3 linked regions of the Homo sapiens genome follow. The protein of the gene in region 3 purifies or fractionates together with the protein of the main gene of each other region. This does not show direct contact. Each region holds a gene or a part of one and is shown on either strand. Other genes may lie near its edges.

The links.
Region 1: the proteins of EHMT1 (region 3) and CHAF1B purify together in Homo sapiens (affinity purification with mass spectrometry, with the first as the bait; one large-scale study listed by BioGRID). This does not show direct contact.
Region 2: the proteins of EHMT1 (region 3) and HEATR5B fractionate together in Homo sapiens (co-fractionation; one large-scale study listed by BioGRID). This does not show direct contact.

What each region holds. Positions count from the first base shown.
Region 1 is NC_000021.9:36,387,961-36,392,768, forward strand, and holds part of CHAF1B (chromatin assembly factor 1 subunit B), read left to right. Parts: intron 1-3,590; coding exon 3,591-3,708; intron 3,709-4,808. UniProt on the Homo sapiens protein: Acts as a component of the histone chaperone complex chromatin assembly factor 1 (CAF-1), which assembles histone octamers onto DNA during replication and repair.
Region 2 is NC_000002.12:37,073,496-37,078,303, forward strand, and holds part of HEATR5B (HEAT repeat-containing protein 5B), read right to left. Parts: intron 3,525-4,808; coding exon 3,416-3,524; intron 2,140-3,415; coding exon 1,990-2,139; intron 1-1,989.
Region 3 is NC_000009.12:137,814,505-137,818,004, reverse strand, and holds part of EHMT1 (histone-lysine N-methyltransferase EHMT1), read right to left. Parts: coding exon 3,497-3,500; intron 2,059-3,496; coding exon 1,943-2,058; intron 567-1,942; coding exon 480-566; intron 1-479. UniProt on the Homo sapiens protein: Histone methyltransferase that specifically mono- and dimethylates 'Lys-9' of histone H3 (H3K9me1 and H3K9me2, respectively) in euchromatin.

The DNA of each region.
Region 1 (4,808 bases), on a different chromosome or scaffold from region 3:
GGCGCCTGCCACCACGCCCGGCTAGTTTTTTTGTGTGTTTTTAGTAGAGACAGGGTTTCATCATGTTGGTCAGGCTGATCTCGAACTCCTGACCTCAGGTGATCCACCTGCCTCGGCCTCCCAAAGTGTTGGGATTACAGGCGTGAGCCACTGCGCCCGGCCTGGATATGCTTTTTAGTTCAGGTGTGGCTGACCCTCTCAATCTGTCATTTAGGTAGTTCAGTAAAATACTGTTCTAGGGAATGTGGTAGAGTCAGGGAGGGAGGACAGCAAGATGAAACCAGGAACACCTGTTTGAAAACAGCTGCTTTCCCGCAAGCTCCCACCAGGCTGTTCTAAGACGAGATGGAAAGGCACTTACCATTCTGTCACATCCCAAGCAAGGCGACTGTTCTGGTTTTGTTGGATTGTTAGTTTAACATCTGTGGTGATCAGAGTCAGTTCTGTGTCTCTGTGTAATTAATTAAATGGCTTTAGGACTGTGTTAGTAATTAATTGGCTTTGGGAGTTTTTTTTTTTTTTTTTTTTGAGACAGTCTCACTGTTATCTAGGCTGGAGTGCAGTGGCACAATCTTGGCTCACTGCAACCTCTGCCTCCCAGGTTCAAGCGATTCTCCTGCCTCAGCCTCACAAGTAGCTGGGATTACAGGCGCCTGCCACCACCCCCGGCTAATTTTTGTATTTTTAGTAGAGATGGGGTTTCGCCTTGTCAGCCAGGCTGGTCTCAAACTCCTGAGCTCAGGCAATCTGCCTGCCTCGGCCTCCCAAAGTGCTAGGATTACAGGCGTGAGCCACCGCGCCCGGGCTATTTGGGCATGAATTCTAAACTGGGATATGAAAGAATTCAGCAATGGCAAAGTTCCTCATGGAGGTGTGCCATGCTCAGAAGTGCAGTGTGCCCTCCCACTGGCCCCTCTTCAGTGGGCCCTGAGTAGCTGCTCGTGTTTGATCTCCCTGTAAGAAAGGCAGTAGCTGAAAAGCACCTAAGCTGCCAACACTGTGGAAACCCCCGCAATGCTCCCTTTCTTCACAGTGACATACTTGTTGTAATACCCATAGTAGCCTCTGAAACGCTCCAGCAGTGCCGGTCGGGGTAAGATCCCGCGTCGGTACCCAGCTTGGCAGCTCCTCTGGTTTGACATCTGTGTGTTTTCTCCCATTCCCTGCTGTGACTGATGCTGCTTTGGAGTCCTGGTGTCTGCAGTGCCGGGCTGCTGGAGGGTGCTGGGGAGGGAGCATACCGGGAGTGTCATTAATGAATGGCCTTGTGATTTGTGCTTGCTTGTTTGGTGGGAATAGATTGATTCTTGTTTTCTGCCTGTGCTTAAATGGGATAAAACTATATGGAAAAAGTAAACCAGGCTGGGCGCGGTCGCTCACACATGTTGTAATCCCAGCACTTTGGGAGACCGAGGCAGGTGGATCATTTGGGGTCAGGAGTTTGAGATCAGCCTGGCCAATATAGTGAGACCTCATCTCTACTAAAAATACAAAAATTAGCTGGGCATGGTGGTGCGCTCCTATAATCCTAGCTACTCAGGAGGCTGAGGTGGAGAATCGCTGTAACCTGGGAGGTGGAAGTTGCACTGAGCCAAGATTGGGCCATTGCACTCCAGCCTGGGCAACAGAGTGAGAGTCTGTCTCAAAAAAAAAAAAAAAAAGTAAACCTTTTTACCATACTTTAAAACAATCTAGAAACTATTACAAAATAAAACAGAAATCTAAAGTTTTTTTTTGCAGGAGGAGGAAAAGAGACCTGGTTGAGTTCAGTGCCATGATACCCAGAGTGCATGAAGGGATGTGTGTGTGTGTGTGTGTGTGTGTGTGTGTGTGTGTGTGTGCGCGCGCACGCTGATTTGTAGAGGGAAAAGTGGGGAGCAGGAGCGCCACCTGGGGGTGGCTACCTGCTGTCTGCCCTGAGGTTGCACATGGCAGCCCCCATTTTCCAAAGTCCCTTGGTCTTGGAGGCCCAGAAACCTGCTGTTGTCAGCACGTGGAGAGTGTTCATCCATCAGGGCCAATGGCATGTTAACCAAGCTCCCAGACTAATGTGTGCGAATAGGATTCCGGTTAACTTAGCATGGGAATGCAGGCTGGGTGCGGTGGCTCACGCCTGTAATCCCAGCACTTTGGGAGGCTGAGGTGGGCAGATCACCTGAGGTCAGGGGTTCGAGACCAGCCTGACCAACATGGAGAAACCTCGTCTCTACTAAAAATACAAAATTAGCTGGGTGTGGTGGTGCATACCTGTAGTCCCAGCTATTCGGGAGGCTGAGGCAGGAGAATCGCCTGAACCCGGGAGGCGAAGGTTGTGGTGAGCCAAGATTGCACCATTGCACTCCAGCCTGGGCAATAAGAGTGAAACACCATCTCAAAAAAAAAAAAAAAAAAGAAAGAAAAACAAAGAATGGGAATGCGTATGTCCTCACAACCTCATTCATTCACTGTCCTGCTGTGCACATTCCTAAAAGGGAAGCTAAGGGATGGTCAGAAGGTTACGTGGTAATCGTAGAGTCAGAATGTGGGGAGTTATTGGACTTAGACAATGGGTGACCTCAGGCTAAAGTACCTGATATCTATAATGGTATTAATAGCTGACACTTACATGGGGCTTACTATCTGCCAGCCATTGTGTTGTAAGTGTGTTATATACATTGGCCAATTTAATCCTCACAACAGCCTGTGAGGTAGATATATTGTTATCCTCATTTTTGAGACAGGGTCTTGCTCTGTCACTGAGGCTAGAGTGCAGTGGCAAGATCAGGACTCACTGCAGCCTCCACCTCCCGGGCTCAAGTGATCCTCCCACCTCAGCCTCCTGCGTAGTGGGACCAGAGGTGTGTGCCACCACACCTGGCTAATTTTTTTGATTTTTAGTAGAGACAAGGTCTTGCTCTCTTGCCCAGGCTGGTCTTGAGCTCCTGGGCTAAAACAACCCTTCCATCTCAGCCTCCCAAAGTGCTGGCATTACAGGCGTGAGCCACCCCACCCTGCCTATTATCCCCATTTACAGGTGAGGAAACTGAGACATCAAGATGCTAAGTGACTTGCTGAAGGTTTCTGAGCTAGGAACATTTGCCAACCCTTGCACTGAGGGTTCTTTGCTGTTTTGTTTTTCTATTCAGCTATTTATAGGTTATGCCTTCAGATTTATTAATGTAGCCAGTCATTTTGCAGTGGCATTTGCTGGCCTAGGGACCCTTCTGTTTAAGGTGATTTTGTATAGCTCTGATCTGTTATGAATTTGATTTTGGAGTTTTAGCTCAGAAGGCAATTTGCCTACTTTCCCTGTTGAAATGCTTGGAAGTAAATCATCCTGGCCATAGTGTCCACTGAACAACATAAATGTTGTTTTAATACCCTAAAAATCCTGACATGCAGCTAATTTTTTTGTATTTTTAGTAGAGACAGTTAGCCAGGATGGTCCTGGGAGGCAGAGGTTGCAGTGAGCCAAGATTGCGCCACTGCACTCCAGCCTGGGCGACAGGGTGAGACTCCGTCTCAAAAAAAAAAAAAAAAATGAAAATAAAAATCCTAATATGAAGGAGTGTGGGTGAAGCGTGGATCACTGTTACTGAATCACCCTGCAGATGCTGTCATCCTATTGTGGAAGGTGAATGATAACAAGGAGCCGGAGCAGATCGCTTTTCAGGATGAGGACGAGGCCCAGCTGAACAAGGAGAACTGGACGGTTGTGAAGACTCTGCGGTAACTTGGGAGGGACCATGGCAGTGATCTCTGTTTACGATGAGTGCATTAAATGGAATATACCTTTTGACTTTTTTTTTCTTTTCTTTTGAGATAGGGTCTCATTGTCGCCCAGGCTGGAGTGCTGTACTGTGATCACAGTACCCTGCAGCCTTGACTTCCCGGGCTCAAGTGATCCTCTCACCTCCCAAATAGCTGGGACTACAGGTGCATGCTACCATGCCCTGCTGATTTTTAAATTTTTTTTTTTTTTTTTTTTTTTTTTTTTTAGTATTTATTGATCATTCTTGGGTGTTTCTCGGAGAGGGGGATTTGGCAGGGTCATAGGACAATAGTGGAGGGAAGGTCAGCAGATAAACAAGTGAACAAGGGTCTCTGGTTTTCCTAGGCAGAGGACCCAGTGGCCTTCCGCAGTGTTTGTGTCCCTGGGTACTTGAGATTAGGGAGTGGTGATGACTCTGAAGGAGCATGCTGCCTTCAAGCATCTGTTTAACAAAGCACATCTTGTACCGTCCTTAATCCATTTAACCCTGAGTTGACACAGCACATGTTTCAGAGAGCAGGGGGTTGGGGGTAAGGTTATAGATTAGCAGCATCCCAAGGCAGAAGAATTTTTCTTAGTACAGAACAAAATGGAGTCTCCTATGTCTACCTCTTTCTACACAGACACAGCAACAATCTGATTTCTCTATCTTTTCCCCACATTTCCCCTTTTTCTATTCGACAAAACCGCCATCGTCATCATGGCCCGTTCTCAGTGAGCTGTTGGGTACACCTCCCAGACGGGGTGGCGGCCGGGTAGAGGGGCTCCTCACTTCCCAGACAGGGCGGCCGGGCAGAGGCGCCCCCCACCTCCCGGACGGGGCAGCTGGCCGGGCGGGGGCTGCCCCCCACCTCCTGGACGGGGCAGCTGCCGGGCAGAGATGCTCCTCTCTTCCCAGACGGGGCGGCTGCTGGGCGGAGGGGCTCCTCTCTTCCCAGACGGGGCGGCTGCCGGGCGGAGGGGCTCCTCACTTCTCAGACGGGGCGGCCGGGCAGAGACGCTCCTCACCTCCCAGACAGGGCGGCGGGGCAGAGGCGCTCCCCACATCTCAGACGAT
Region 2 (4,808 bases), on a different chromosome or scaffold from region 3:
AGCCTCCCAAAGTGCTGGGATTACAGGCATGAGCAACCACGCCCAGCCTGGACGTTGACATTGATAGAATTCATGATTTTAGTCATATTTCCCCAGTCTTATTTGTATTCTGTCAATATTTGTACATTTAACACTACAAGATGTTGCTAAGAGATATGAAAGACCAAAATAAATGGAGAGATATATCATGTCCATAGGGTGGAAGACTTAATATTATTAGGATGGCAATTCTCTCCAAATTCAATGCAACCTGAATCAAAATCCCAACATGGTATTTTTGCAGACATTGACAAACCTAGACTGGGCAAAACAATTTTGAAAAAGAACAAAGTTGGAGGGCTAACAGCACCTGATTTCAACACTTATTACAAAGGAACTGTAATGAAGAAAAGTGTTGTTGGCATCAAGATAGACAAATGGATCAATGAAACAGCACAGAGAGTCCAAAATTATACCTACACATATACACACAACTGATTTTCAACAAAGGGTGTAAACGGAGTTTAGTGAAGAAAAGATAGGCTTTTCGAAATGGTACTGGAGGGGCCGGGTGTGGTGGCTCACGCCTGTAATCCCAGTAGTTTGGGAGGCCGAGGTGGGCGGATCACGAGGTCAGGAGATCGAGACCATCCTGGCTAACACGGTGAAACCCCATCTCTACTAAAAATACAAAAAAAATTAGCTGGGCATGGTGGCGGACGCCTGTAGTCCCAGCTACTTGGGAGGCTGAGGCAGGAGAATGGTGTGAACCCGGGAGGCGGAGTTTGCAGTGAGTAGAGATCGCACCACTGCACTCCAGCCTGGGGACAGAGCAAGACTCCATCTCAAAAAAAAAAAAAAAAGAAATGGTACTGGAAGAAGTGGATATCCATATTGAAAAAAAAAACAAAAAATTTTGATTCAAACCTTGCAACATATACAAAAATTAACTCAAAATGGATCACATATCTAAGTATAAAACTATAAAACTTCTAGAAGGAAACACAGGACAAACCCTGGTTTACGAAATGTTTCCTTAGATACAACACCAAAAGCACAATCCATATAAGAAAAATTGATACACTGGATGAAATTCAAAATCTCTTTTCCTTACAAGGCACTGTTTAGAGAATAAAGAGACAGGCCACCCATTGGGAAAAATATTTGTAAATCACATATCTGATAAAGGAATATGTAAAAAACCTATAAAACACTCTCAAAAGTCAATAATTATAAAACAACCCAATAAAACAATGGACAAAAGATTGAGCACATCCTTCTTCGAAGAAGATATGGATGGCAAATAAGCACCTGAAAATATGCTTATCATTAGTCATCACGGAAATGCAAATTAAAGCCACAATGAGATACCATTGAGATATGAGATACAATGACATATGTATCCATTAGAATGGCTTAAATTAAAAAGACTGTCAGTAACAAACAATGGTGATGATATGAAGGAAGAGAAATTCTCATACACTGCTAGTAGAAATGCAGAATGGCACGAGTACTTTGGAAAACAGTTTTGTACTTTTCTGAACGTTAAACTAAATCTGCCCTATGAACCAGCTATTCCATCCCTAGGTTATTTGCGGAAGTGAAATGAAAGCATATGTTTGTGCAAAAACTTATATACAGATGTTCACAGCAGTTTTTTTGTAATAATCAAAACTAGAAGCAACTCAAATGTTTATAACAGGTGAGTGAACAAATCAATGTGACATATCCATACAATGAAATACTACTCAGCAATAAAAAGGAATGAACTATGGATACATATAACAACATAAATGAATTTCAAAACAATTATACTAAGTGAAAGAAGCCAGAATACACATACACAAAAGTACATCTCATGATGTGATACTATTATATATAATTCTAGAAAATGAAACTAATCCATTGGAACACAAAACATAATTTAAAATTTTAAAAGAAAAAAAAATCGTTGACTGTTTAAGAGCAAGAAGGATAAAGAGCAGTATTCTAAATTGGTCGAGTACTAACCTTGGCCACTGCACATCGAACAGCCATTGACCTATCAGTCAAGAGAGACCTGGCATTCTTGTAAATATCACGATGGGAGGAAGCTGCTGCACCACCCAGTCCACTTAGAACTTTCTGTAGACTCATTAAGATTTCACTTCGCCCTTGAGACTAGACATGTATACAAAACAAAACTATTTTGTAAAATAAATTCCATATTTAAACAAGAACACACCAAGACAAAAGTTCTTTGGGTCTAATGGTCTTACCTCCAAATTATAAACGGTAAATAATGAAAAGTACAATAAAATTAAGTATTCTAGAAAGTACCTGGCAAGTAAGAATAGTCAATTAAATAATATCTTTCTAAAAAATTAGGTTTTAAGTAAATATATTCCAATATTTCTATGAATTACTGAAGTACATACAATATAATGAAAACATGAAGAGATTCAAAAGCTTCAATATCATATCTCAATATATAAAATATTTCAGAACGTAAAATATTAAGTAAAAAAGTTGAGAAATAATATATAAATGATCCAAAAAAGGAAGCAGAAAACATCCAACACATTTAAAAAAACATGTCAGAAATACAGCAAACCTTCATCTTCTTGTGACTAACTCAAACTGTTATATCCATATTCTCATAGTGCTTATTGTTATTTCTGATAGTATACTCATCACAGTGTATCACAATGCTTATTCACACTTAGCTCTCTTCCACTAAACTGTAAGTTCTTTGAGGTCAGGACCATCTTTGTATGTTTAATGCCTGACAAATAATAAGTCCTCAATTCTTTTTTAATGAATGAATAGACAAATAGTTCCCAGAAAAGGTATCCAATTCTAATCCAATGACTGGTATCACTGAACAGGGAAATAATTTAGACACAAAACACAAAGGGACAGGAAAAAGGTGATGTGACAAAGGAGACAGAGATGGGAGAGATGCATCTACAAGCCAGGGAAGATCAAAGATTTCCAGCAACCACTAGAAGGTAAGAAGGAAAGGAAACATTCTTCCCTAGATCCTTCAGTGGAAACATGGCCTTGCTGACACTTTATCGCAGACCTCCAGCTTCCAGAACTGTGAGACAATAAATTGTTGTTGTTTTAAGCCACCCAGTCTAAGGTAATTTATTACAGTAACCAGGAAATTAACACATTAGCTATGGCACCAAAAAAAAGAAAAAAAAAAAAGCCAATCCAAAAGTACCATAGGACTAAATAAAAAATAACAAGTAAACCTATTCCTTGTCAAAGAAAAGCATTCTTTCCCTTCCCCCTGATATACATTAAAAGAAGGGACAAGTAATAATTTGTAATTACCTCCTTGCTAAGCAATATGAGACCACAGTGACAGAAAAAGAAACAAACATATTTTAGCTGACATCTAACTCTTGCCACAAGCAAATATTCAAATAATATTGGTTGTAAAACTTACCTCTGCACTTTTCAGAGATTTCAATAGATTATTTACCGTTTCTGGAAATGCGCTGCCCAACATTCTCCCCATTTTTTCATAAAATGCTCCGACACAAGCCACCGCAGCCCTGTAAGAAGTGACAACTTCACTAGTCATTGTCCAGGTTAATGATACAATTATACTTTTCTCATTTTTAGAAATCAATTTGCATTTGTCTAGGACACTTTTGGCTATAATCCTTAATTTCAACTATCAAAAACAATTTATGCTTCATAACTGCAACAAATACTATACTCTATTTACACTGTATTCTTGTTAAATACTATAGTTAAATTGTATTCTTGTTAGGAATACAAAAGAATCTATATATGTACATAATAAATCATACCCATTCTTTGGGAAGAAATCCAAGCTTTTCTTTTTTTTTTTAGGGGGAGACAAAGTCTCACTCTGTCACCCACGCTGGAGTGCAGTGGTGTGGTCCTGGTTCACTGCAACCTCTGCCTCCTGGGTTCAAGCCATTCTCCTGCCTCAGCTTCCTGAGTAGCTGGGATTACAGGTGCATGCCACCATTCCCAGCTCATTTTGTATATTCAGTAGAGATGGGGTTTCACCACGTTAGCCAGGCTGATCTCGAACTCCTGACCTCAGGTGATCCGCCTGCCTCGGCCTCCCAAAGTGTTGGGATTACAGGCGTGAGCCACAGCGCCCGGCCCCTAAGCTTTGCTTCTATGAAGACTTTCCAAATTATGTCAAGCCTCAACAATCCCTCTCTTCTTTCATTATATGTAACACTTAATGTCAATCACTGATTTTGACAAAATTATATCATTTACTGTGTTGTAACTTGACCATTTTATATGTCTCTATCTTGTCCTGCCAGTGGAAATGTAAACTCCAGAAACGGAATATAGCTCACATATTTGCATTGCTCACAGTGTCTACCTCTTAATTTACAAATAATACTATACTATTAGTAAACCTGTAAAATTTAATCTAAATTACATTAACAGAACACTTGGAAGAATAAAGTAATAATAGCAACACACTTCTTCAGGAGCAAGAAATGACCCCAGTGTCACTTAGGTCAATAGTAAGTGAATAGCTGTGGGTTTAGCTTAAAGGCAAAAGTAGGACATGGTGGTTAAGAGCGGATGCTTTGGAGTCTAGCAGACCTGTGCCTAAATCCTAGAACCTACCATCTAATAGCTATGTGTAGTTGGATCTTGGAAGTGGGCAGGTGGTCTACCATGAGGCGAGTCATTCCCGCTCCAACAAATAAAAATAAATAAAAGCTATGTGATCTGAGCAATTTACAGATAAGAGAGGTTAACTAAATTTAGCTCACAATCAAACACATAATAAACAGTAGAATCAGGGAATCAACTTTCACCTCTTCAACTCCAAATCT
Region 3 (3,500 bases):
ACAAGCACAGCCCAGACTCCGCAGCCACAGGGAAAGAGCAGGGCACACCAGAAGAACATGCAGGGAACATGTTTAGAGAGGTGTGCCCAGGGTTGAACTGGGGTTTCAGCTGAGGGTCCGGAGGATGATGATAACGATACCGAAAGCTCTGCGTCTGCGGTCTGGTACCTGAGAACCCAGAATGGTCCTCCCCTAGAGATGACTGCCCATGCTGGACCACGCCTTCCTAACTGGACCACGCCTTCCTAACTGGACCACGCCTTCTTAAATGCACTCCTGGGCTGGTTACGGGCAGCAGCAAGAGGACTGAGGACAGCACGAGCTTGGTTCTCGGGGCCAGGGTCTCTGTGGCCCCCACCCCACGCTGCTGTACGCCAGGGATGTGCCTGCTCCCAGAGGGGCTTCCTGAAGTACAGACACAGATGGGCCTCCGTCCCAGAAATGACACCAGGCTTGGGGTGACCCAGGGACTCACTCACTCGCAGACAAAGGTGCCTGGTGGGATGTCCTGCAGGGACCGCACGCCCCAGCCCATGTCCCGCGTCCGGTAGAGCTGCAGCCTTGCCCTGAAAAATAGAGAGTAGTGGTGAACCCAGGCCACAGCCTCAGCCTGTTGCCACAATGGTCAGCAAAAGCCAGCTGGTGCCACGTCACTGAAATGAGGAAGAAAACTGGTTCTGTATCCGAAGCGTTCGATGCTGCAGGCACCTCACAGACACGGCATCTCGCACTCTCAGGGAGCCAAGAACCCGGGGATCAGCCAGGAGCACCCCAGCCCACAACCTCGGCAAGTCACTGGTCCTGGCCGTGGCTCGGTGTCCCCATCTGTAACATGGGGACAGAGCTGGGCCTGGGCCACTAGGCACTGTGAGGGGCAGAGGTGCTAATACTAGAGAAGCCTATAGCTGGACCAGGCTGTGGTGACACCTGCAGCCCAGCCTGCTCCCGACAAGGAGCCCACAGGCCCCTCAGGGCTGGGGGAGGGTGGCAGGGGAGGTGGCGGTCGAGGGTTTCTCAGGGCTGGGGGAAGGTGGTTGGGCAGGCCTGGGGGAGGGTGGCCGGGTAGATCTGGAGGAGGGCGGCTGGGCGGTCCTGGCATGTGGGCCTCTGAGGAGCCCTCAGAACCACGTGCCTCGCGTCTGCCCATCTGGCATGTGTCCCGTGTCTGCCTCGCGTCTGTCTGGCGTGGGTCCTCACCACCAGGCCTTTCTACCATACCAAGGACAGAGACTGCCTTTCACCATGAACCAAGTTTATCGAGGTCACAAAAAAGTCAATACTATAAAAATGAGTGTTCAGCTAAATTTAAGTGTGCATAACTTTCCCTTATGACTCAGAGGAGCTTTGACTTCTCCAATCTCGGGCACATTTGCGGAGGAAATGCTCAAGACCAGAATCCAGGGAAAGGAGACGCAGCTGCTGGGCGGTCAGGGGACCAAGCCCAGCTGGGGAAGGGCGCTGGGCAAGCCTTACTCCATGAGCGTCCTGAGCAACCCAGGAACAAGGAGTCCACGCAGCCTGAGAAGCGTTGGGACATCACCTCACTGTTAGGGAAGCCCAGAGAACAGAGAATATTTAGAAAATGACTGGAGTATTAAAATAGAACTACGACAGCCCTAACCTGTTGAAGAATGTTCGCATGAACTCGGTAACAAAGGTAATTCTTAGGCCAAGTCCGTTCCTCTGCTTTTAGCTGGACTGACCCAACAACCTGCTCCTTCTCTCATGCCGAAGTCTGTGCTGGGGGAAGCATGACTCGTGATTTATGGCACAAGTGACATTTCTAGAGGATAAAGGGCTCAGGTAACTTGTCGGCTCTATCTGCAAACACACATGTGCGTGCATCCAAACACGTTAAGTTCTTGTCTGTCGGGGTGACCTCCGTGCTAATACGTGCTAATACGAGCAGAATGTGGGGCTCCGGCAGGAAGCTGCCTCTCACCTGAGACCATTCTGTACGACGCGATTTCGGCAGTTCCTCCAGCAGGAGCACGCGTGGTTGCATTCGAAGATCAAGGGAGGCTCCGCCATGTTGAACTCTGGCAGGAGCCGGCCATCCTGTGGACAGATGAGCAGCAAGGGCCCAGCAGAGGTTACTCACTCTTTAATTGAACTGACATCAACCCATTTCTACTAAGTGCCCAGTGTGGCTTAAACGGACATAAAAACGATGGTTTCTGGCCAAACTTGAACACCCACCTAGGGAAAAACTCCATGTGTACGGTTTGGATGAGAAGCCTCCACCCAGATGCCCACACAGGTTGTGGAGACCCCCTGGAGCGCTCCCCTAGGCCCAGCCTGGGGCCAGCTTCTGTCCACCCAGGGCCTTCCCAGCCCCCAGCCTGGGCTTCTCCAGCCTCACCGAGGCTGCCAGCTCCTGGGTTGCTCTGCTTTCTTCAGCTGGTTGGGGCCTCCTGCACCCTCCTGCACTCCTGGCCTCCTTGCCTTGCAAATCCTCAACTGTGGAGGGACCCAGCCCTCTGCTCCCCTTTCTACCCCCCTGAAGCCAGGCCAGGTACAGCAGCACTGGGTGCAGATGCTCCCCCAGGGCTGTGTGAGCTGAGGCGCGGGGCCCAGGGCTGCCCAGGCACACTCTGGCTTGACGGCTTCAGGGGCTGCTCTGAACAATTAGGGCGCTCCTCAGAACATTCCTTCCTGCGCCCCCTCAGCAACACTGTCCACCTGAAAAGACACCACTCGGACATGAGCTTGGTGGCTTTCTGAGCGTACCATCTCCATAGCCCTCACTGGCACGAATCCTTTTCCCATTGGAGCCTCTAATTCAGATGGGTAAACACTTGACCCTCCATGTCCACTCTCCTCCAAAGTCTGCTTCCAGAGGGGACGCCTGTTGCCTCTCCCTGCTCGCGTCTCTTTACCCAGGCCATGCTGGCTTCCGCCCCCACCGTGACCTCTGAACTCGGGAGACCAGGAACTCTCCGCCTCTGCTTAGACATCCCTCCCCTGAATTGCACCCCTGCTAGCCAGGGCTACTCCCCACTCCCGTCTCCTCCTCAGCAGCCTCCAACCTGGGCTCCTCCGAGGACCAGCACCCAACAGAAACTTCCAATCCTGTGTCTCCTCAAGCCCAGCGCCCACACTGATGCTCCCTGTACCCAGCCCGGCAGCACCCTCCCTCTTCACACCCCTCACACTCAGCAAGCACAAGGCACAGCTTACCAGATACACACAACATAAGCAGCACCTCCTCCTGGGGCCAAGCCAGGCTGACGCTGCCCACCCCCGCCACCATCCAGGCAGCCACAAAGGATGCAGACCCCAGCCCCAGGGAATCCGCAGCCATGTCCTCGGCTCACGACCCTGACTCGGGTGCTGGTGCCCGCTGTGCCTCCCCTGCCTGTCACACCCAGCTCACCTCCAACTCCTTCCCGACGCTGCCACGACAGCGCTGGGGTCACAGACGCCTGCACTGTTTTTGCAGACCCGGACCAGCGGCACTTACCACCTGAGCCCACGCACACGAGGCCGCCCTCACCTTG